Homo sapiens: one gene and its partners. The protein of the gene in region 7 purifies or fractionates together with the protein of the main gene of each other region. This does not show direct contact. Each region holds a gene or a part of one and is shown on either strand. Other genes may lie near its edges.

Region 1 (3,500 bases), on a different chromosome or scaffold from region 7:
GAACGAGTCCATGCAATACAGTTTATAGCAAATGTATAGTTACAACATTTACAAATATTGTACTGAAGAATCCAGTGAAAATAATCTATTCACAATATAACAGTAATTTCAAAGCATTGATTCTCAGTCTTTTTAAAATTCACAAATTAGTAAAATTAAAAGAAATAAAATTCGGAGACTGACCAAATCACCAATTTTTTTATTTTACCAAATAAAGACCTTTAAAAAGAAATACTATTATCCACTTTCATTATCTTTTCATTTTAAAAATGACATTTTGGCACTAAAAGAATAAGAATTTCCTTTCCGATTTTAAAAATTAATACATTTACCCTTATGAAGGACTCACTTCTTTCATTGTACTTTTTCTTATTGCTATAGGCCAGGAAAAACATCTTGCATTTGGGAATGACTGATCCAGAGCATGCTATCTGTAATGCAACTTTCCTATTAATACTTCTGTGTTATCTATACTTAAGTGAAACTTGAAGTGTATTTTAATATAATAATCACTGTAATATAATATGAGAGTAATGTTACATAAAGAGTAGTTAGCTTCTTTTAGATCTTTCAGATCTTACACACTCAACTTCCCCTGAAATTATAGGCTCTTGCCCATAATTTTTACATTTACTAGGGATTTCTGTATCTAGAAAGATCAAGAATGAGAATCTGGTCAGTTTACACTAATTAGGATTATGATATTGAAAACAGTCAAATTAAGGCTAATGAAATTGAGGAAATATTTGCATAAAGAATATGTCCTTTAAAAAATTGTTTTGGTTGTTTTTTGAAAGATTTATTTTGATAACTACTCTCTGCCTTTTGTTTCCCCCTTTGGTTCTACAGAGACCTCATGATTCTATCTACTTTTGCCTTTAGCAACATGATGAGACTGATTATGTACATAACTTAGAGAAAATGAAAATAAACTGAAATGCACTGAACTAAAAGTACAACCAGGAAAAAACTGAAGTTGTGGAACTTTTTACCATATGCTTAAGTTTAGAAATTTTTCTCTCAACATACATATACAGAAACAAGCTATAATAAAATAAAACCTGTATTGCAGACCACCAGCATTCAATTTCTTTTACAAAAATTGTTTCCTTAAGCATATTTGTAAACACGGATTGATGATCTCTGGTTAAAAGCTTAGAAAGACTTGTGATTAAGATCTATTTTTGTGAGGTTTGTTGGAACTTTGCTCAGATTTTTTTTTTAAGAAAAGAATAAGTAAGTATGCCATAACAGAAAGAAGGAGTTCCAAATCTTGAAAATTTATTCAAATTTTGACCCCAATGTATCATTTCTTTAAAAAAGTCACTATAGCAAAGTGCTTAAGAGTGCAGACACTAGAGCCAAACTTCCTGGGTTCAAAATCCTGACTCTCCTACCTCCTAGCTGGGTTACCTTGAACAAGTTAATTGACATTTGTGCCTGAGTAAACAGTAGTAGAAGAACATAGACAATAATTTTGAGTCTTGAATCATTGAGAAAAATTAATGAGGAAGATTGTTTTGGATAACGATACATTGTTACTAATAAAAACTATTTGGTAAACATTTGTATGATATAAGTCTGTCAAATATTCTTCCCCTTTAATCAGCGTGACCAATTAAGGCACATAGTTTAGGCCAGGCGCAGTGGCTCACACCTGTAATTCCAGCACTTTGGGAGGCTGAAGTGGGCCAATAACTTGAGCCCAGGAGTTTGGGGGCAACCTGGGCAGCATAGTAAGACTCCATCTCTATTAATAAAAATAAATTTTTAAAAAATAAAACACAATTTGGAGACATTTATAGACCTAAAACTATAATATCTATATCTGGCTAGTATCTAATACATGTGATGCTGTAGAATCCTGATTATCCTTCTGGCATCTTGGTTAGAAAACATTTCTGTAATAGAATGTTTATATTGACCTTTGGCAACATAGAAATAGATAATAGTCCAATGGTAATGCCTGTGTATTTTACTTAATATTATTGATTTTGTTCATCTTTATTGTTAGCCCTTACAGAAAAGATATGGTAGCCCAGGCATTCTAAAAATACAGAATTGTTCCATTCTTCAACACTTTAGCTCTTAGTCCTCATTGATTCTTTTGGAAGATGTGATTGTTTTATATTCAGGTAGCCACCCAGAAAAGAATATCCACATAGGTCTACGCTCCGTTATCCAGAATTCTGGGGGTCAGGAGTGTTTTTAGAATGTTTCAGATTTTAGAAAAGCAATACAGTATATATACTGTATATTATATAATCACTCCAAGCACATGTTTTTGCAACAAAAAATATGAATAGTCACTCTAAGCACTATAAATAGGCCCATGTCAGTTCAGGTCACATTTTACCATCAAAATTGTTTTGGTGCCAAGCTTAGTCTGAGTTTTCAGAGCTTTTTGGCTGTCAGAATTACAGAAAGGGATTATGGACCTATTAATATACCTTGTGTATAACATCTGTGGTAGCTGTGAACTTCTGTTGCCCCTGTGTTCTAGTTCTTGTTATTTTGAACTGGTCAGTTTCATTTTGTGATATTTTTCTGCCATCTCTAGTTCAGTTTCCCAAGTTAACCTAAGTAGATATCAGTAAGATGAATCTGAGAAGTGTATTGGTTGTTTTCTACCATTTTATATGTAATTTCTGTATAATGGGTCCTTTTTTCTTTTTAATTTCCATTTTAAATTGGGATATATTCTCACATGAAGAAAATTTTCCAACAGACTGATTTGAAAACATTTATGAAGAAGGGACATGGATAATGATGTGGGTTTTTGTACTTGGCATGTCTTATACTCCCATCTTTCTTTCTCAGTTACCAAGGAACTCCTCATTTCCTCTAGGCCAGAAATGTTTCCTTCTGAATAGTCTGTATTTAAAAGAAAATTTTTTAAAATTCATAACCACTAGGTTATTTTGTGTATATAGTACAGTATATAAATTAGGTGAAAGAAATCCCTTTTAACTTAAAAGAATTTAAATTCAGGACGCTTATTTAGCTAATGTGTACCAACTAGTATGATACACATTCATAATTAGCTTTAGGTAACCTTATCAGGAAATGAGTTAACTAGCTCCAAAACTCTAGCAGTCTGTGTAATTTTAATACAGTTTTCACAAAATGCTGACAAATAACTTCTGGCTATCTAGGCAAATTAGATTGAGTGAAAATTACATCAAATAAATCTGTCTTGGTTTGCCTTTTGCTTGTTGTTGGGAAATTGTATTTTCAATTTGAATCTGCTCCAAGACAGAAGTAAGACTCAGATGACCAAGGTTCCAATTCCAAGCTCTAAGACTTTATATTCTACTTTTTTTTATCTGTTGTTTTAAATATTACAAACTCTAATGGGAATACCATAAATGTAGACTGTTTTGAATGATTTCTCTATTTGTGTTTCTTAATTCAAGCTATATCAAGAAGGTCATTTGCTTGGTAAATTGTGAAATATGGTATGAGAGAGACAAGCTTCATTAAAACGTTCCATCTTCATT
Region 2 (3,500 bases), on a different chromosome or scaffold from region 7:
ACCACATTGGTCAAGCTAGTCTCGAACTCCTGACCTCAAGTGATCCGCCTGCCTCTGCCTCCCAAAGTGCTGGGATTACAGTCCTGAGCCACCATGCCTGGTGGCATAATAATCTTTAACTGACTTTTTCATCAACATGACTTTTGATACATTTGGCTTGATACATTTGATACGTGTATCAACATGACTTTTGAGACTGATTCACCTTGATACATTTGGCTGGAATTCATTAATTTTACTTGTTATGTTGTACTCATTCTGTGACTATACTAAATATTATTTTTCCTTTTGTTGATAGACATTTAGGTTGCTTTCATTTTGTTTTGTTTTGTTTTTCATTTTTACAAACAATGCTATCATCAACAACCTCAGCCATATCTTTTGACTGCACATTTGTGAGTGAGCTAGGAGTCAATTCTTGGGATTGTGGAGCATGAACATCTTCTGCTTGTGTAATATTTCCAAATTATTCTCCAGAATGGTTGTATAGAAAAATTTCCTTTTTCATATAATCTGATAAATGCGGTAACCTGAAAATTCTCCCAATGTGCAACACCTAGAAATGTTGAATAAAACATAAAAGGCAATCTTTTAAATGCATAAAGAAATCTCAAGAAAGCAAGAAAATACCTAAGGCTTAGGAGAGATATATATTTTTAAATGCTTAGAGGAAGTTGAAATTCGGAGTTATATCTACCAATGCGCATTTCCTCAACAAAGGTGTGGGCCCAGGGAGATAACAGGCTATATAATGTTTTCAGGGAGCTCCTGTCCATTCACTGGGTCAACAGTTAAAGCTAAAATTTCAGACCATGGTATAAGAAAAAAAAGTCACTGAAATGACTTTGGCAAAGTTCAGAGTCAGGTCAGCTACCCCAGGCTGATCTTGCCATCATCCTGACACCTGTGGAACCTGGGCCCTCCTCTGATTTTCAATTTGGATTGCTCTATTCCTTTCTTCTTTCTTGAGGGCAATCAGTTCAGTCTCCTTGGTTACCTACTTCTGGCGCCTGGCTTGCTCCACTGCCGGCTCTGGTCTGCCAGCTTACCCCCTCATGGAGGCTTTGTTGCTTCCTCCTGCAGCTCTTGGAAGCTGACCTCTGATGCTTGCCACTTCCCATTCAAGGCTGGGGATTAAGCCTGAGGTCCAATCATGGGCTCCCTTAAGCACACCCCTGTCTCAGTTTCTTCCAAATCCTAGTTTGTGATAACAAGGCTGGGGGTATATTCGAAAAGAATTGGGGCTTAGAGCACTTTATAGTAGCTTGGTGACAGGATCAGATAATTTGGGGTTCTGTTAAGTAGGGTGAGCCATCCTCGGTGTACCAGGTTCTGCTCTCAGGGCCCCCACGATTTCCATCAAGAATGGGAGGCAAGGCCAGGTGCGGTGGCTCATGCCTGTAATCCCAACACACTGGGAAGCCGAGGTGAGTGGATCACCTGAAGTCAGGAGTTCAAGACCAGCCTGGCCAACATAGTGAAACCCTGTCTGTACTAAAAATACAAAAATCAGCCAGGTGTGGTGGCATGCGCCTATAATCCCAGCTACTGGGGAGGGTGAGGCAGGAGAATCGGCTTGAACCCAGGAAGTGGAGGTTGCAGTGAGCCGAGATCACACCACTGTGCTCCAGCCTGGGCAGCAGAGCGAGGCTCCATCTCAAAAAAAAAAAAAAAAAAAAAGAATGTGAGGCAACAGATATGACAAGCGGCAAGATTATGTCTACACAAACTTTAGCTAAAAGTTACCAAATAGATAATAAGATGTTTAAAATAATGACATAAAAGAAGGAATAAATAACACAAGGGAAAAAAACCCAAAGCACAATGTGTATAAAAAAAGAACACATAGGCCAGGTGAGGTGGCTCATGCCTGTAATCTTAGCACTTTGGGAGGCCGAGGAGGGTGGATCTCCTGCGGTCGCGAGTTTGAGACCAGCCTGACCAACATGGAGAAACCCCATCTCTACTAAAAATACAAAATTAGCCGGGTGTGCTGGCACATGCCTGTAATCCCAGCTACTCGGGAGGCTGAGGCAGGAGAATCGCTTGAACCCACAAGGCAGAGGTTGCGGTGAGCCAAGATCGTGCCATTGCACTCCAGCCTGGGCAACGAGAGTGAAACTCTGTCTCAAAAAGAAAAAAAAAAAACAAATTTTCTAGAAATGCCAAATAATGATGACTAAAATTAAAAGCCCAATGGATGGCTTGACCGTCAAGATAGACAAGGTGATTGCACTAATCTACCCTCGGACCAGTAGTGCAGAGTTCCTGTCTCTCCATATCTTTGCCAACATTTGAGAGTGGTACAAACTACATACGAATAGGCAAGCTGCAGTTTGCATTGCTTCATTACAGAATTGAGCCCATCCCAGTCAATATCTTCCCTCTTATGGTTTCCTGGGATTCCAAATTTCAGACACAGAAGGACTTTAAAGCTCATCCTCTCTGTCTGTTTTTTGGGGGAGTCCCTTAGAGTATTTGGTCGTAATGGCCAGTTCTCAGTAGGGCTCTCCCACAGTGACTGCCTGACATAAGGCTGTTCTTCTCCTCGCTGGTTCCCACACCCTGAAGCCTCTTACCCAGTGACTTCAACATTCTGTTTTTCCTGCTTCTAGTCTTAAATCCCCAGATTCTCTTGTGCTCACTCTGCACCTCTTTCAGCCCCTCCCTTCCTCCTCAGCAGTCTGAGTTTTAACCCAACTCTCATCATTCCTCTTCCTCTCAGCCAGTCTCTGACCCAGTGCAAACAAATGCAGCTCTATAATTGACATGCAGCCACCGCAAAGCCTAGCCAAGAGTTCTGTGCTGCACCTACAGCTGGAAAGGTTCAACAACCACAGTTTTCTAAACCCAAAACTAAACGAGTAGCCTGGCAGAGCTTGGAAACCCAGAGGTAGTATGGAGTATGGTTAGAGAATGGACTCCTGAGGCAGAATCTTACTTAGATTCACTAATTAGCTGTGTGACCTTGGGCAAGTCACTTAGCCTCTCTGTGCCTCAGTTTTCTCAAATGTAAAAACAGGGATAATAGTGCCCACCTTATAAGGTTGTTCTGAGAATTAAATGAGTTAGTGAATGTAGCATTTAGAATAGTGCCTGACCTATAATGAGTTCTATATATGTTAGCTACTATTGTTATTAATACTTGAAATTGGGACTGTCCCAGGAAACAGCAGATGTCAGCCGTGTTCATTAAAATAAGATATGAGATACCACAGTGTCAGAATGTGTAGCCTTACTTACATAGCTAGTATTTTCTACTATTCTTTCTCTCCTTGTCAAGATTCATCCAATACTTATATAATTCTTATTCTTCTGAACCAGCCCAGAAAATCTCCCATTCCTCTCTGTTTGGCCACCAAAACAGTCACAGCATCCTTGTTTCTGCCTCATGGCCTTCAGCTCTCCCTTCTGCAACAATTCTGCTTTTAGCAACTAACAAATCCCATGCTTTTGGTATTTAGGAAATTGCTTTTGGTTTTCTGATAGTATTAAGCTGA
Region 3 (3,500 bases), on a different chromosome or scaffold from region 7:
GACTTAACATACATATAAATATAATCTCCTATTTTTAATTCTAGCTCAGACCTCTCCCATACCTCCAAAGTGGTATATCCAAGTTACTCAACACTTTCATTCGTATCTCTCACACTTAACATACCTAAAACTAAATTTCTAACCTTTGTCCCCCAGATCTGCTCCACTCACAGCCTTTTAAAACCTCACTAAAGGCCGGGCACCGTGGCTCACGCCTGTAATCCCAGCACTTTGATCTGCGTGGATCACCTGAGGTCAGGAGTTCAAGACCAGCCTGGCTAACATGGTAAAACCCTGTTTCTACTAAAAACACAAAAAATTAGCTGGGCGTGGTGGCTCGTGCCTGTAATCCCAGCTACTCTGGAGGCTGAGGCAGGAGAATCGCTTGAATCTGGGAGGTGGAGGTTGCACTGAGCCGAGATCACGCCATTGCACGCCAGCTTGGGCAACAATAGCGAAACTCCGTCTCAAAAACAAAAACAAAAATCTCAGTAAATGTCAATTCTATCCTTCTAATTGCTGAGACCAAAAATCTTGTGGCTCTTTTTGACTCCTCTTTTCTCTTACACCCTACGTTCCAATAAGAAATCCTATTAGTTCTACTTTCAAAAATGAACAAGTCAGACACCCTATTACTTGAGAGCCTTTGCTCAAACTGTTCCTTTGGTCAGAAACGTTCCTTTCTCAGATAAATGCAGTTTATTCCATCTTCTCCTTCAGATTTTATCTCAAATGTCACCTTCTCCATCAATCACACCTTGAACACTCCATTTAAAACTGTAAGCCTTCTCTCAAAACTCCCAATCCTCTTTACCCTGCTCTACTTTTTCCTCCATACACTTTTATTCTTTTAACATACTCTACTTTTTCTTACATCACATATCAGTGTCCAATTACTGCTTTTAGAGTTTAAACTCTAAGAATGCAGAGATTATTTATTCTATCCCAGCAGCTAAAATAGGGCCTAGCACTTAATACTATTAAATATTTAACAAATTAATCAACTATAAACTAGCATTTATCCATTCTATTCATTCAAGAAATATACATTGTCTAACATGTTTTAGATAGTGGAGTTACAAAGATCAGTAAGAGGTACAGGTAAAGAAGGACCATTTATTAAATATCTACTATGTGTCAAGCACATACATTATCTGTCAGGATCTAAAGTAATTTCTTCAAGGTCTCATAGCTAATAAGTATAAAAATGAATTTCAAACATTAGTCAGCTTGACTCTGAAGTCCACATTCACTCCACTACACCAGGCTGCTCCTTCATAAATTATACTATCCCCTGCCATAAAGCAAGATTTGATCCTTGGCTATTATTATTTATCCCAAAATACTAATGTTTCTAATACTTTTGGACACAATTTTACCTATTCTAGAATACACTGTAGAATCAAATATCGACCTCATATAGAGTATCAATTAGAGGATGTATGAAGAAGGCAAGGCAATCTTCTTAACTTACCCCTTTAACATGTTCAAAGGTGACATTTTTCATCTGGACAGGATCTACTGCAGAATCAAGCCCTGTTGTTGTCCGGAAGCGGACTAAAGGGAAGAAAAGAAATGTTTATATTTGATAGATTAATAACATTCCAATCACCTTGTTTTTTAGATGCAAGAAAGCAAAGCCTAGAAAAATTAAATGTCTAAGTGACCTAACTTCACATATCAAATCAGAGTGAGGAATAGAAACTAGGTCTTCTGGATTTCTTTTTTTTTCTTTTTGACAGAGTCTTGCTCTGTTACCAGGCTGGAGTGCAGCGGCACGATCTTGGCTCACTGCAACCTCAACCTCCCAGGTTCAAGCGATTCTCCTGCCTCAGCCTCCCAAGTAGCTGGGATTACAGGCATGCGCCACCAAACCCGGCTAATTTTGTATTTTTAGCAGAGACAGGGTTTTCCATGTTGGTCAGGCTGGTCTTGAACTCCTGACCTCAGGTGATCCACCCGCCTCAGCCTCCCAAAGTGCTGGGATTACAGGCGTGAGCCACTACGCCCGGCTGGTCTTCTGGATTTCTAAACCATCTTCAAAGAGTAAGTGATTCACGTTAAAAAGACATATTTCGGCTGCTCTGCCTATGGAGTAGCCATTCTTTTATTCCTTTACTTTCTTAATAAACTTGAAAAAATAAAAAATAATAAAGACTGGGCGTGGTGGCTCACACCTGTAATCCCAGCACTTTGGGAGGCTGAGGCGGGCAGATCGCAAGGTGAGGAGATCGAGACCATCTTGGCTAACGGTGAAACGCCGTCTCTACTAAAAACACAAAAAATTAGCTGGGCATGGTGGCGCAAGCCTGTAGTCCCAGCTACTCGGGAGGCTGAGGCAGTGAAATTGCTTGAACCCCAGGAGGAGGAGGTTGCAGCGAGCCAAGATTGCCCCACTGCACTCCAGCCTGGGCAACAGAGCGAGACTCCATCTCAAAAAAAATAAATGAAATAAAATAAAAAAATAAAATAAAATGACCTATTTGTACTTTTCAGTTAATAAAATCAAAAATTATTTTCTACTTCTTATTGTAGTATCTAATGATAGAAATCTTAAATCAAAGTTTCTCAAACTTTGGTGTGAATAAAACTCACTTGAGAAGTATGTTAATTCTCAGGCCACAGCACAGGGCCCAGGAGAATTTTCATTTTTAACAAACACTTCAATTATTCTAATTGGTCACAGGTCTACACTTTGAAACACATTGCCTTAAAGTTAGCAGAAAACATTGACACACATTAATAAAAAATTGAGGCTTAACACATTATTATACTTTTCATGTAGTCTTCTTCCTCTGACAACTGTTATTACTTGCCCTCAAATGACCTATCAATTATGACAACATTAAGTCTGACAAGCAAGACAGAAAAAGTCTGATAGGAGAGTAAAATATTTGAGATCAATTTTGGAGAACTATTACAAGGATTTCTTAAGTCTTTCCCACTCAGGTAGAAACTTCCAAACTAGAGCAGTTATAAATGAGTAAATTGAGCAATTTCTAATTTCCTCAGAAGAAGCCCAAAATACTGTTAAGATAGGCTGAAAAATGAGCTGGCAAAATATGGGGTTAAGGAGAAATGCTTAATAAATCAGGAACATAGAAGCTGGGAAAACAAATTTAAAATAGTAATTCTAGAATGAACACCAATAGTTTTGGCCCACAAAGTATTTTTTAAGAATCTGTACATATCCTTAATATTTAAGAGAATAGGCAACACAGGGTGAAAACTGCACAGTAGTGGAAAAGGTAATTGGAACCACGTAAGTCTGACACTATTGCTTAATTTCAGATAAGCAAACTAAAAAAAAGGGAAACATTTAATGTGATTTTATGAATAAACTGAATTTGTTTATCTTTGAAATAGAAGACTATTTCAGCTTGTATTGCCATTATAAAATTCTTCTACATAATTTTAAAATTAATTAATTAATTTTCCTTTCACCCTGTTGACCAGGATAATTTTTAAATTTTATAATTGGACAGGTATCATTTTCTAAA
Region 4 (3,500 bases), on a different chromosome or scaffold from region 7:
CGCATCTAATAAGTCGAATGGTCAAGGATTTGGCAAAATCTCCACTTCCAATCACACCTACAGTGACCTTCCTTGCATCTTTGATACCATTTATGCCATTAGGTAAAAAAGTTTCACTAAGGCTCTTAGGGCTTCCCATCATAGAGATTGATTCCATGATACGGACACTTCCAAGATCACCAAGAATATCCTAGGGGAGAGAAAATAAAATGGTCATCAGTTACCTATTACTGAACATTAAAACACTTCTAGACATTGTAATGTCCTGTCTTTCTAGAGGTAAAATATTTCACCACACTTTAACATACAGCACAGTAAGACACAATTTGTAAGCTAAAAAAGGATCACTATTCTGGTTTCTCTTCATAAATCTTTTGGCTTTTAAAAAAGCATCTCAATAGGAAAATTAACTGTCACAAAGGTGAGGTGCTAAAGTGGGGCTTCTCAAATTTTAATGTGCACACAGATCACTTCGGAATCTCGTTAAAATGTAGATTCTGATTGAGTAGTTCTGGAGGGAGGCTCAACATTCTGCATTTCTAATGAAAGCAATACCAATGCTGGTCTGAGACCCCTCTTTGAGCAGCAAGGCACTAGTGATGCAGGACAGGAAAGCCCCCAAATGGGGGCTTAGCCCAGGAGACTACTTGGCTTTGCATGGGAAAGAATTCAAGGGCGAGCTGGTGGTGTTAAACAGCAACGTTTATTGAAGCAACAGTTTACAGCAACAGCAGAGGTACTGCTCCTTGCAGAGCAGGCCTACCCCGTAGGCAGTGTGCCTAGAGTAGCAGCTCAGTGGCAGCTCTGCAGTCATATTTAAACCTACTTGATTTATATGCAAATTAAGGGGTGATTTATGCAGAAATTTCTAGGATGAGGGTGGTAATTTCTGGGTTGTTGGGCTGTTGCCATGGAAAGGGGTGGTAACTTCTAGGTGTTGCCATGGCAATAGTGAACTGACATGGCACACTGATGGGCATGTCTTATGGGGAGGTGCTTCTGCCCTGACCTCAGTTTGGTCCAGTGTCTGAACCTTGCCTCTGGATTCAAGTTCTGCCTCCTACCTCACTAGAGCACATGAAAAAAGGGACTGAGGTTTTCACTCAGAACTTTTTGGAAAAACACACTTGTAACAAGTATGATTACCCAGCTTTTGAGCAGATCAGAGGCAGCAAATCACAAATGCTGCTGGAGGCAGAGAGGACTGTGATACTAAGTGATGGCTCACAAGACAAGAGAAGAAAGAAAAACCATTTTTTAAAAAGCCATTTAAACCAAAACTGTCTAAAGTCATTTGGGGTAGAGGTTATAAAGTTCCCTATATACTTCAGTAGCTAGTGACTTTATCATTAAATGAGAGCTAGACAAATTAGCTAACAATGAATCCTGGCACTTAAATAATATCTTAAGAAAAATAGGCATCAAAATATAACAAAAGAGTAAATACCATGGACTTCTATCATTCACCCTACATCTTACAATGTATCATTGAGAAAGATAGCTTACCTATGGAAAAAGGATTAGTAACATGTTTATGATCTTAAATTATATAATATGTATGAAATCTTTTTCTTCCCCTTTGTAAAGAACATGGCTGTGCTTTGGTCAAGGACAGGCAGAGGTAAACATCCAGAGTGAGTGAGTTCAGAGCGCAAGCATATAACTTCACTTGTTACTTGTTATCATAGCCATGTAGACATAACAGAAGCTCACCACCATCGCTATGACATAGGGAAAACTCATCACTTGGCTCTAAGCCACTATTGTCTGTAAAAGGTATAATTGCCCTGTGGACACTGTAGAGGCACTCTTGTGCTCAGAGACAGAGAGTCAGAGCTGTCTGTCTTTGCAGACAGATGGGGGAGTCAGGACCCAGCTTGGCTTGCCCATGCCCAGAGAGAGAAATAGTTAAGCTGCTGACCCTGAAGGCAAGGGAGCTGTGTGTGTGGGAGCCACCAGACTAAGCAGCTGAGACAGGATGGACAGTGTGAGAAAGTTGTTGATCAGAGCTGCTGTTGAATAAAATCATCTTTCACCTGCCTACAGCCCTTCAAGTATTCTTTCTGCTCATCCACCCACGCCCTTTGGACCGCAACATGACACCCTTTCATTTGTTGGCTGCATAAACTATGATGCAGTTATTCTTCCTGGAAAAATCTCTCAAATTATTTTTTAGTTGAGAGACTAGCATCTGAAATGTTCATATTTGGAATAATTTGCTCAAGAATACAAATCAGGTTGCCATGAATTAGTGTCGAAATTGGGTCTGAAAGAAAAATACTCTTCCATTCTACCCTCATTGCACAATTTCTTCTATGCTCATAGCAGATGTGGACCATTTCAGAGGATTTAATGGACTTTACAGGCACAGGTGGAATGTTTCAAAAAAAAGTTGGGGTTTTTACTAAATGAAATTTGAAATGACTACAGCCAGGAAAATTCAACTTTTTACCCTAGAAATGAGTCACATCCAGTAACTCCAAATACATCAGTATGTTAAACTTTAGAAAGACAATAATTATAGTAATATTACTTAATGCTTATATAGGACATAATGTATTTCAGCTCTCTTGTGGTTTTTATGTATTAACTGATTGAATCCCCACAACCACCCTAAGAGACAGGTGCTAATACTGTCATACCCACTTTGTAGATGAGGAAACTGAGACCTGCAGAAGATAATTAATTTATCCAAGGACATAAAGACAGAAAATAGGGAAGCCAGGTAGTTGTCCAGCTAAGACATGTGTTATTTAGGTGCATGTAAGGAGTTTAGGAAAGGGTGTTTTTGGGGGGTTATAAGTATCAAGGTGTAACAATTACAGTTGTACTCAAAGTAGTATATTATTCCTTTTTCTTTGGTCATTTCATTGCTCCTCAGAGTTACCTAGGAGCACCCGATCCTGGGAAAGAAGAACATTTACTATTTTTAAATCAATTACATGTTTCATTTCACACCTTTCAAGATAGACCACTCCCTTGGTGTGGTCCATGCACCCAGAAAGGCAGGCAGGAGTCAGAGGTACCAGGGTAGGAAAAAAACCTGTCAATATCCATTTGGAGATGTCACTAGCTATGCTGGGAATCAGGAGTGGTTAAAAAAACCAGAAGTAATGAAATCCATGCTCACTTCATTCGAAAGTTAATGGTAATCATGAGCATTATCTAAGGGTGAAAAAGGTTGCTAGATTCACACAAGGGAATCCAAGTTTCCTATATCCCAGCCTGGAGTTCTTCTGAGTATATACTGCAGCATCTCCCAAAATATAAGAATTGCAAAATCTTTAAATCTAACACTCATGATGATCAAGACTTTTTCAAACAGAAACAAAAACAAAACAACATTAATTATCTGCTTATTTTACAAAGCAAGTTCAAATCCCTTCTGTAAATCAGAATGTGAACAGGTAAAAATTTTATTTTGCTGGGAGTTCCTTTATAGGTGACTGGTCATTCTCTTGCTGTTTTTAGAATTCACTCTTTGTCTTTTACTTTTGACA
Region 5 (3,500 bases), on a different chromosome or scaffold from region 7:
GAAAAAAAAGTAATGGTAAAAATTGGAAGTAAACAAAGTAAAAGGTCCCTTCACAATACCTCTTCACTGCTCTACCTAATGCTACATTTACAGACAAATAGAAGGCTTATAATTAGCCAGGAGCTATTAATATTTGAGTCTAAGGAAATGTTGATTAAGTATATGTTAATTTGATTTAATTACTTCACAGACTGATTTTTTTTTTTTTTTCAGGTTCGATCTGGGGCTAATGTTCTAATTTGTGGTCCAAATGGCTGCGGAAAGAGTTCACTTTTCCGTGTTCTTGGTGAAGTAAGTACAAGTTGGCCTCAAAATTTTGCAGTCTTATTTTGCCATACTGTCTACCACTTTGTAAATTTTACAATTGTTCTTCTCCCTTCTCTCTCTTTAATAGTTATGGCCTCTTTTTGGAGGACGTCTAACTAAACCTGAAAGAGGAAAATTATTTTATGTTCCTCAGGTAAGACCTAGCTTGAGTTATCTTTGATCTAAAGATCTTTTTGTTTATTTATTTTTTCATGTTGCTTCTAATTGACTTTTGCTCTACTACTGTCAGAGACCTTACATGACCCTTGGAACACTTCGAGATCAAGTGATATATCCAGATGGACGAGAAGATCAGAAAAGGAAGGGAATTTCTGACCTAGTAAGGGAATGTTTATATCCTAGATCCACTGAAAATACTCCAGATTATTTATTTTAATCAATTAAGTATTTTAAATGCCAGGTAGTTTATCTTAAGCTGTAAAGCCTTCCAAAGCTGTAAATTGTGATTTTCTAAGCTGAGGTAAGATGTTAATCCCTTGGCTTAAAAAGAGTTTAATCTTAACCTTTACACCATTGTTTGTTTTCTCATTGCCATCATCCTTTTACTGTGTACAATAGTGTTATTCTCTTTAAGCTACTAGACATATTTTGTCAAGTTTGGTGTAGATACTAGGAGCTGAAAGGTTCAGGGCTACCTTGTGCCACATTCTTTTCTGAAATGTATCTTTTAAGTGGTACAGACAATAGAATTATAGTGATTCCAGTTTAAAAAATAAACCACTATTAAGAATGTTGGCTTATATTAAGTTTAATTTCATCTTTAATCATTTTGCTGAAAGGTACTGAAGGAATACTTAGACAATGTCCAGTTGGGTCATATCCTTGAACGTGAAGGAGGCTGGGACAGTGTTCAGGATTGGATGGACGTACTCAGTGGTGGAGAAAAGCAAAGAATGGCGGTAAGTATACTGTGAAGAAGTTGCACAAGAATGCAACTGGTTCCAGCATTTTGATTAATCAGGACACAAAGTTTCATCTTATATTTTTTTATTCAGCAGCTGTTTCAGTATGGATTAGTTTAAATTATCATAAAAGTGCTTGAAAATCTTTAACTTGCATGTAAATTTGGAATTCTGAAAAATTCATAAATACCCTGCCAGTATCTATGAAAGGAAAAGCTGCAGATCCGACTATATACCAATAATCCATTTTTCTAAAAGTTCAGAGAAACTCTGTAGCTCATTATTCCTGGGATATAAGGTAATCCTGGCTGGGTTATGAAATTTCTTCTCATGTCTCTTCCCTATAGACATCTCTTTTGTATCACTCAGGCTATTCTTTCTGAAATAGCTGAAGGTATTAGAAACGATCCATTCAAATTTTATCTTTATTCTGTTCTTGCCCTTTTCCTCCACTATTATATGTATGTTTTTGTTTCAAGGTTCAGTATCTACTACTTAAAGTTACTTAGAATTTTTAAGTTTTCCTAATATAAACAAGCATTTGAAAGAAACTACTTTAATTGTTATGATGACTAAACTTGTCTCAAACCAAAAATATGCGCTAAACACTACGTAGTAAGAATGAGACCAGCCTGGGCAACATAGCAAGACCCTTTCTCTACAAAAAAAAATTTAAAAATTATCTGGGCGTAGTGGCACACACCTATAGTCCTAGCTACTGGGAGGCGGAAAGATTGCTTGAGCCCAGGAGTTTGAGGCTGCATTGGGCTGTGATCACACACCGTGGCACTCCAGGCTGGGCGATAGAAGGAGATCGTCTCTCTAAAAATAAATAAATAAATAAAAATTTAAAAAGAACGGTAGTTTGGGTACCTTGTCAAGAGGGGCAACTTCATAAAGAGTCATTTTTTAACTATATATTTCATAGTTTGAATAGATCCAAGCAAGAGATTCTCCTCTCCCCCTGCAGAGTATGGAGATTAGAGAAAACTGTAGCTAAGGAAAGAAAGCAAAAGAAATTGGCTTATGGCAGAATTTCTGACCCATTATATTCAGGTTATATTCCACCTTTTTGTTACCTCCGAGTCCCTGATTTTGCAAGTTGTTTTTCCCAAAATCATACCCACTCTACATGAGGTTAATATTAACCTAATAGTGTGACTTGCCTGGCTAGTGCTATAACGTGAGATGAATCTAGTGTGAAGAGTAAATCATAAATGAGAGAGATAATAGCTATATTCAAAATGGAAATTAGGCTGAAGGAGTGAAAATTTGAAATGATTAGGCATTTCTAGAGTCAATTTAGAAGATGACTATAGAAATAACTGCAAAAAAGAGCTGCAAAATAACTTTAAATTTCTGTACTATGTCTTCAGAGAAAATGGAAGGATGTGGTTCAGAAATGGACACGACGGAAACTCAGAGAATGAATAATGAATGTACTTAAACCAAGGAACAGTGTGTGTGTGGTATAAAAGTACAGGAGGGATAATTTTGATTTGAAGATTAGGAATTCAAAGGCGTGCCCAGAGCAGTGGGGGGCTGAGGCGGGAGAATCACTTCAACCCGGGAGGCATAGGCTGCAGTGAGCCAAGATCATGCCACTACACTCTAGCCAGGGCAACAGAGCAAGACTCTGTCTCAAAAGAAAAAAAAAAAAAAAAAAACACATGATCCATAATAGAGGCGTTTGGGAAATGGGGAAAGCTCACCTGTGACACCACTGCATATATAACTGGAGCATGGCCAAGCCATTGTCTAGAGAATTGAATGTGATGTGTAAAAGAGAGCCTGTTGTTTTGTTTCAGAGGGTGGAAAGGAGAAGGCTAACGCTACAAATACTAACGTTGGTGAAATTAGGTAAAGATTATATATGTGTATTCATTTTACTGTCCTTTCAGTTTTTTGGTAGGATTGAAAATTACCAAAGTAGAAAGTTGAGGGGAAAGTAGGTATTAGAATTTTTAGGAAGAACAGACCTAAAAGGCCTAGCCACTTAGAACAGTGAGTCAGCCAGGGTTGCTCCAGCTAATGTCACAATTTGGGATATCTTGTGTTTCTGACCAAAAGTTATCTTTTCCACTCCATTTTTCTTGCTCTTCCTATTTAGTAATAACTTTTCTTATTTTGAATTATGAAAAAGTATATATGATGGAAAAGTGGAATATTTATTTAAGTATAAATTGGGCCAAACCCCTTTACCAGAGATACCACTGTTATAAAATTTTTAGTGTTTTTTTAATCCATTTTTGTAAATCTTTTTTTTTTTTA
Region 6 (3,500 bases), on a different chromosome or scaffold from region 7:
CCAGGTCGGGGCAGCACCAGCTGGTCTTGGCACCTGCAGGGATTGGAGGGGCAGGCCCTTCACAGTTCTACTCACAGGTCCGCTCTGCGCGGGCGAACTGTCCTGCCACGATCCAGGAGAGCATGGTGACTGCTGCCACAGCCCCCACATGCAGGAATGGCGCTGTGCCCTGTTTGCAGGGAGAGGGAAGGGAGACCAGTAACGCCCAGCTCTGCCCAGACCCTGTGTCACCAGCCTCCTACTTCTACCTATGAGGCAGGCAACCCTGTCTCCATCTGCCAACTGGGGACACTGGGAGCCTCAGGACCCTGGTGTCCTCCCTAGTTCTGACCTGCTCTGTGACCCTGGGCGCCTCCCTGCCCTTCTTTGGGCCTTGGTCTGGAGAAAGGGAAGTGACAGAAAGGCTCTTGTTGTGAGGGTCCTGGGGGACCCTCCTCACTCACCTGCAGGGAGATCAGCAGCACCTCCCACTCGTCCTCCCACAGCTGGGCCACGGCCGACATGGCCACCACCGTGGAAGCCAGGATGACCACCAGCCCGATCTGGAGGGGGAAGAGTCACCGGACAGAGGCTCAGAGCGGGTGGGAGGGTTCCCAGTGTGTCTGAGAGAGGAGCCAGAGGGAGAGACAGAGAGGGCAGGAGAGGCCGATGGAGCAGGGCAGAGGGGAGGGAGGAAAGAGACAGGCATGGGCTGCCAGGAAACTAGAGGCCGGCAGATAGACACGGCAGGGAGAGACTGAGGCAGGAGGAGGCAGCAGGAGGCCGGCAGACCCAGCGAGGAAGGGACAGCGAGAAATGGAAGGGAGGATGGGGACAGGAGGAGGAGGGAACTGTGAGGAGGGAGGACATTCAGTAAGGGGGACCTCCCTGGGCCTGGCAGGTTAGTCACATCCAAGGTCCCGCCCAGCCTCCCTGCCACCTCAGCATGGCACAGCAGAGGAGGAAACCCACTTGTCCAGGCCATGCCCAGGCCTCAGGGGAAGGAGGCTGAGGAACTGGGTCTGCTGCAGGAGCCTGGAGTGCAGCCCAGCCTGGCACCCTGGGCTGGGCTCACAGTGGCACTTCAGGCGGGAGTGGGTGGTGAAACACATCGCCACCTGCCCCATCTCCACGGCCTGCCCTCTCCCGGACTCCCAGCATCTAGGTCCGCCGTGATGGGGGCCATCCTCCTTGCAGCCTCCAGAAGAAAGCAAAGCACAGCTCTCATGGAGGATGAGGTGGCACCTCTACGGGACAGAGATCTCTGGTGACAGGTAAGACCTGAAATCTTTAACCACGTGAAGCTCGGCAGAGGTTTTCGGCTCCTCGGCCCCCAGCCCCTCGCCCCTAGCCGTGGATCTCACTCCACCCACCCCCCTCCACACCCCCAGGCGTGCCTCCCCGAAGCCCAGGTTGTGGCTCTCCTCCAAAGCCTCCCGCAGATCCCAGTCTCTGGAAGGGTCAGTCAAAGCCGCCACCTCCGTCCCCCTAGTTTCTCCAGACTCGTCTCCCATCTCCCTCCAAAGGCCTGTCCTTCTCCCACAGCACTGCCGGCCGCCCTGCCTCCCTGGAGCCGTTCTAGCTGCTGGCAGGGCCTTCACCCCCTTTCTCCCGAGGCAACCTTTCCCAGAGGCAGCAGCGGCCAGGGCCCTCTGATGCCGAGCAGGGACAGTGGCATTTCTAGACGATGAGGGTGGGGCGGTGGCCAGCATCTCCGCTCCCTACCCAGGGACCTTCACTCGCCGGCGGGGAATGCTGAGTCTCGCCTGGGATGAAGTTTCCCTTTGGAGGCTTTTCATTCCAGCCCATCAGCCTGGAAACAAATGTTCCCCCAAGAGACCTGAGCGAGGCAGGTGAGGAGCTGGAAGGGCTGTGACATGGGGGCTCGGGGCGGGAAGAGGCATGGGCGTGCCTGGGCCTGTGGGGGCGCTTCGCGTGGTCCCCAGGTTGGTTCCGCGGAGGCACGAGCATCCTCATCTCACACACGGGAAGCGAGGTTCGGGGAGAGGAACAGCTGGCTGGGTCACGGAGCTTTGAAGGGGCAGAACCAGAAACGAACACCTTCTGCCCATCTCAGGGGGTAAGGGGGTGTGCGCTTTCTCGGACAGACAGCACGCTGGTGTCAGAGAGGCTGCGCAGTCTCTGGGAGGCCCAGCTGCGCCTCCGAACCCCTGAGAACCCCGCCCTCGGCACTCAGGCCCCTTCTCCCGGCTGCCCCCGGCGCGCAGCTCCCCCTTGTGGCCATCGTGGGAGGTGGCCCTGCACACAGTGAGTTAAGGATGGTTTCCAGGAGCATCTCATCACAATACCTATTAATGGAAACGACTTGCAATAAAACTGATTCCCCAAACCCTAATACAATTAAAAATGTTATTATCTCTGAGTTCCACAGTTGCTTTGGTGCTAATCAACACACTCAGCAGCATCACTGCATGTTCAGTGTCTGTGGGACTTCCCTACCTTGCATCATTAAGTTATAGCAATAGCACTGACACCCAAAAACGCAACCACCATCGCTCCTGAAATCTGACTGAGAAGGATGAATCCCACCCTAGAGGCCCAGAGACAGATCACCGTCCTCCTCTGAGAAAGTGGCCTTGGGTTCTCTGTCTTCATGGGACTGTGGCTTGTGATAGCCATGGTGGGTACAGGGGATACAACAGAGTCTTTCATTCATTCGATGAGTCTGGCCTAGGTGCCGGGACCCGAGAGGAGGTGGAACCCCGCCTTGCAGAGGTGCAACAGCTGGCCTCTTAGGGGTATCTGGCCTCTGGGTTTTGCAGTCCAAATGGCAGACAGCTGGCCCAGGGTTAAGAGCCTCACTTGAATCACGGTCTTCAGTCGAATCCTGGCTCTGCTACCTACTGGGGATCTTTCCACATCCTCTCCAGGGACCTTTCCAGAGCTGTGAAATAGGGATAGTGAGTACCTACCTGGAAGGGGGTTGGGGAAGATCAGTGAGGAAATGCAAGTGAAATGCTTAGTACAACGGCTGGCCAGAAGAAAATGCTTACTAAATCTCAGTGATATCATTTTAAAAAGTGAGCATGATATGGGAACAGGATTATTGTGAGGAGTGAAATGACTGTGAAATTCTGAGTGAAAGGTGCCTGACACATGTGGTCAGCACCCAATAAAGGATGGTTACTGCTGTTATGGTGAACGCAGTGCCTGGCACACACAGGAGGTGCTCAGTGAATGCGCCTTCCTTAAGCTGCTGCTGGAGGGACAGAGGCTGGACACCAGGAAAAACCATAAAGCTGGGGCCAGTGCATGGAGAGAAGTCTGAATTCACCAGGAGAGGTGATGAAGTAGACATAGCAGATGGCAGGTAGAGGCTGATGGAGCCTTGGTAGGAGGCAGAAGCCCCAGCCCCAGCCCAGCCAGTAACTTGCCTTGGGGCTGTGTGGTACCCAGTGCTCCTCTCTGGGGCTCAGGTTGGGTCGCTGACAGACGCCTCCTCTGTGCAGGTCCTGGGCTGGGGGCTGCTGCCACTGAGGCAGGGGAGTCAGGCGAGGACA
Region 7 (3,500 bases):
GGCAGAGCAAGTGTCTTCACATGGCCAGAGCAGGAGGAAGAGAGAGATGGGGGAGATGCCACACGTTTTTAAACAACCAGGTCTTGTGAGAAGTGTATCTCGAGAACAGCACCAAAGGGAGAACTCCACCCCCCTGATCCAATCACCTTCCACCAGGCCCCACCTCCAGCATTGGGGATTACCATTCAACATGAGATTTGGGTGGGGACACAGACCCAAACCATAGCATGGTGGTGCGGTGTGTTTTGTTGCTGTTCTTTTTTGGCCAAATAATTGCTCAAGGACTTTTTAAAAAAGAAATGTATATGCTACATAATTACTTCACAAATGGTTTGAAGATCTAAGTAAGTCAGACGTTTTGGCAAGTGTTAAAATTTAGTGTTTCAAGGTGAGAGAATGCTCTGTATAAGAAATGTTTAGTTAATTGCAGATCATACAAAAGTTCCTAATAATTTTTTTAAAGGACTTTGTAAGTTTTTGGAGGGAGCAAAATGGATTTCACAACAACCAACACCTCTCACCTCCCCATCTACAAGCTTCCTCCGACAGTGGTTACCAATAATGTCTGTTTTATAGTTATTTAAAGCTTCATAAGTACTTGAAGCCATGTATTCTGCTTAAAAGAAAAGTAGTTGATGGAGGCAACAGTGTTTCCAGGGATGTCATTAATTATCTCTTTTTCACCGACATTATTTCAGTTAAAGTTTTAAAAGACAGTTACTACCTCTAGGAAATAAATGTTCTTTTTGAATGATATCCTACCATCCCCCACCTCCTTTAAGGCAGTAATGCAGTTAAATGCTTCCGAAAACAAGGCCATGTGACGCTTAGTAATTGGTGATAGGACAGGATGCTTATGGTGGAATGAAGGAGCACTATTTAGGCAATATCATTGGAGTTGCTTTGAAATACTCAATTAACTAGTAATTCTGTTGCTAATGTTCTGTACAGATACATAAGCATCTCCATTTTTACTTACCTGTAAGAAGCAGGAAACAAATCATTGTTGAGTACCAAATCCATAGGTTAATGTGGTCTTAATAGTTAACTATTATATGCAGTATAAATGAAAGAGTCTTTCTCTTTCTGTAAGTTGCCCTCTTCTTCTCTTCTACGTCTCTTATCTCTCCCCCTGTATTTAGCTGACATATTTATTTTGACATATTTAGTTGATCTGCCTGCCTCAGCCTCCCAAAGTGCTGGGATTATAGGCGTGAGCCACCATGCCCAGCTGGGAGTTGGTTTATTAAGCCTAACATTATGATATTAAAAATTTGTCTTTGAAACGTCTAATCTGAGCTAGGGTTTTATGGCTGATTTTTGACATAGTGATACTGAGGAGAAACTCTTCCATTCAATCTGTAAAATTCTGAGATCATGTGAAATATTTGTGGCATAACTTTAATATTAGTTTTGGGCCACAGTGATAAAGATGCTTTAACTGTAAAATTAAAATGATCTGTTTCAGGTTTTTTATTGTTTTGCAGATCAGCAATTCATGCTAAAAAAGTGTCCTGCCCTACTTCAAGAAATGGTTAATGTAATCTGCCAACTAATAGTAATGGCCCGGAACCGTGAAGGTGAGGAGGAAATATAGTTAATTATGTTATACTTTTTCTTGCAAGCATATGCAGATTGTACTTCATATTTTAGGATTTATGGGTACTCAGACTTCTGTCGGCCAGTTCAGTGAGCTTCTTCAATTTTACTCATGTCTTTTCATATTTCTTTCCTATATTTTCTATTATTTAAAGTCTATATCACAGCTCACTGGGTTTTTTTTGTTCTTTTTTTTTTTTGAGATGGAGTCTTGCTTTGTCGCCCAGGCTGGAGTGCAGTGACAAAATCTTGGCTCTCTGCAACCTCTGCCTCCTGGGTTCAAGCGATTCTCCTGCCTCAGCCTCCTGAGCAGCTGGGATTACAGGCGCGTACCACCACACCTGGCTAATTTTTGTATTTTTGGTAGAGACAGGGTTTTACCATGTTGGCCAGGATGGTCTCCATCTCCTGACCTCGTGATCCACCTGCCTCAGCCTCCCAAAGCCCTGGTCACTGTGTTTTTGATTTTAATTCTTGTTTTTTTTTTTTTTGGAGACAGAGTCTCACTCTGTCGCCTAGGCTGGAGTGCAGTGGCGCGATCTTGGCTCACTGCAACCTCCGCCTCCCAGGGTCAAGTGATTCTCCTGCCTCAGCCTCCTGAGTAGCTGGCATTACAGGCGCATGCCACCACGCCCGGCTAATTTTTGTATTTTTAGTAGAGACGGGGTTTCATCAGGTTGGTCAGGCTGGTCTCAAACTCCTGACCTTGTGATCCACCTGCCTCAGCCTCCCAAAGTGCTGTGATTACAGGCATGATAATTTAATTATTTTATTGTTCAATTGTTTGCAAAGATTTAAAATTTCTCTTTCTTTGAATAATTTTTGAGTTAGGTCATTTTTTCTAACAGTGAATTTGAAATCTTTAACTGATATAAAAGTGATTCATATGTCATGTAATTTTTATTAATTAATTATAGACAGCATCTACCAGGGCTGGAGTCCAGTAGGGTAATCATAGCTCACTGCAGCCTCAAACTCCTGGGCTCAAGCAGTCCTTCTACCTTAGCTCTCCGAGTAGCTGGAACTACAGGTGCATACCACAGCACGGAGCTAACTTTACATTTTGTGTAGAGGTGGGATCTCACTTTGTCGCCCAGACTGGTCTGGTTTCCAACTCCTGGCTTTAAGCAATCCTCCCACTTCAGCTTCCCAAAGCCCTGGGATTACAGTCATGAGCCACATGCCTACAGGCACCTAGCCATTTTTTTTTTTTTGGTATGGAAGGAAAAGAATGAGGGAATTTCTGGTCAGTAATGGAAAGGAATGCCCTTAAAAAAGGATAGTGGTTATGGTTTGTTGTTACGGGTGATGTTGGTTCTTGTCATGGTGTCATATGTTGGTGATACTGATAATGTCTGATAATTTACTATTATTTGAGGTGAGGCAAATAATTTTTCTTTTAAATCAATGGTTGTTGCTGGAAAATGTTCATTAGATCGAGTTTGTATATTTTTAGTGTCTTCTCTGGTAACTTTTAAAGGAAAATCTTACTATGATCCTCAAATTTGAGGTGTTATGGATTTAGTGTGAATTTTGTTTTTGTGATGAATTGTATACTCCTGAACATGTAAAAAGTCCAGCCCTGTTTCTTTTTTTCCTGTTCTTTCTAAGAAAGGGAGTTTCGTGCTCCAACTTTGGCATCCCTAGAAAACTGCATGAAGCTTTCTCAGATGGCCGTTCAGGGACTTCAGCAATTTAAGTCTCCCCTTCTGCAGCTCCCTCATATTGAAGAGGACAATCTTAGACGGGTTTCTAATCATAAGAAGGTAATTCTTTGCTACTTTAAAGTCAGTTTTCAGCAGTTTGTCCTGTCACTTAAAGGTAACATGAATAAAAGTTTTCTGGAAATGGTTACTATGCATTTTTTAGATTTAGAATGTCTTAAATACTCTAAAACTTTC

Evidence for each region.
Region 1: the proteins of SEC63 (region 7) and EXOC1 purify together in Homo sapiens (co-immunoprecipitation; one large-scale study listed by IntAct). This does not show direct contact.
Region 2: the proteins of SEC63 (region 7) and TMEM154 purify together in Homo sapiens (co-immunoprecipitation; one large-scale study listed by IntAct). This does not show direct contact.
Region 3: the proteins of SEC63 (region 7) and YME1L1 purify together in Homo sapiens (affinity purification with mass spectrometry, with the first as the bait; one large-scale study listed by BioGRID). This does not show direct contact.
Region 4: the proteins of SEC63 (region 7) and STEAP2 fractionate together in Homo sapiens (co-fractionation; one large-scale study listed by BioGRID). This does not show direct contact.
Region 5: the proteins of SEC63 (region 7) and ABCD3 purify together in Homo sapiens (affinity purification with mass spectrometry, with the first as the bait; one large-scale study listed by BioGRID). This does not show direct contact.
Region 6: the proteins of SEC63 (region 7) and GDPD5 purify together in Homo sapiens (co-immunoprecipitation; one large-scale study listed by IntAct). This does not show direct contact.

Annotation. Positions count from the first base shown.
Region 1 is NC_000004.12:55,874,148-55,877,647, forward strand, and holds part of EXOC1 (exocyst complex component 1), read left to right. Parts: intron 1-3,500.
Region 2 is NC_000004.12:152,673,498-152,676,997, forward strand, and holds part of TMEM154 (transmembrane protein 154 precursor), read right to left. Parts: intron 1-3,500.
Region 3 is NC_000010.11:27,130,385-27,133,884, forward strand, and holds part of YME1L1 (ATP-dependent zinc metalloprotease YME1L1), read right to left. Parts: intron 1,558-3,500; coding exon 1,475-1,557; intron 1-1,474. UniProt on the Homo sapiens protein: ATP-dependent metalloprotease that catalyzes the degradation of folded and unfolded proteins with a suitable degron sequence in the mitochondrial intermembrane region.
Region 4 is NC_000007.14:90,221,740-90,225,239, reverse strand, and holds part of STEAP2 (metalloreductase STEAP2), read right to left. Parts: intron 191-3,500; 5' UTR 158-190; coding exon 1-157. UniProt on the Homo sapiens protein: Integral membrane protein that functions as a NADPH-dependent ferric-chelate reductase, using NADPH from one side of the membrane to reduce a Fe(3+) chelate that is bound on the other side of the membrane.
Region 5 is NC_000001.11:94,498,389-94,501,888, forward strand, and holds part of ABCD3 (ATP-binding cassette sub-family D member 3), read left to right. Parts: intron 1-213; coding exon 214-291; intron 292-394; coding exon 395-460; intron 461-556; coding exon 557-646; intron 647-1,106; coding exon 1,107-1,226; intron 1,227-3,500. UniProt on the Homo sapiens protein: Broad substrate specificity ATP-dependent transporter of the ATP-binding cassette (ABC) family that catalyzes the transport of long-chain fatty acids (LCFA)-CoA, dicarboxylic acids-CoA, long-branched-chain fatty acids-CoA and bile acids from the cytosol to the peroxisome lumen for beta-oxydation.
Region 6 is NC_000011.10:75,449,442-75,452,941, forward strand, and holds part of GDPD5 (glycerophosphodiester phosphodiesterase domain-containing protein 5), read right to left. Parts: coding exon of another isoform or gene 3,375-3,500; intron 2,891-3,374; exon of another isoform or gene 1,892-2,890; intron 1,793-1,891; exon of another isoform or gene 952-1,792; intron 543-951; coding exon 444-542; intron 170-443; coding exon 76-169; intron 1-75. UniProt on the Homo sapiens protein: Glycerophosphodiester phosphodiesterase that promotes neurite formation and drives spinal motor neuron differentiation.
Region 7 is NC_000006.12:107,902,709-107,906,208, reverse strand, and holds part of SEC63 (translocation protein SEC63 homolog), read left to right. Parts: intron 1-1,487; coding exon 1,488-1,580; intron 1,581-3,210; coding exon 3,211-3,365; intron 3,366-3,500. UniProt on the Homo sapiens protein: Mediates cotranslational and post-translational transport of certain precursor polypeptides across endoplasmic reticulum (ER). Proposed to play an auxiliary role in recognition of precursors with short and apolar signal peptides.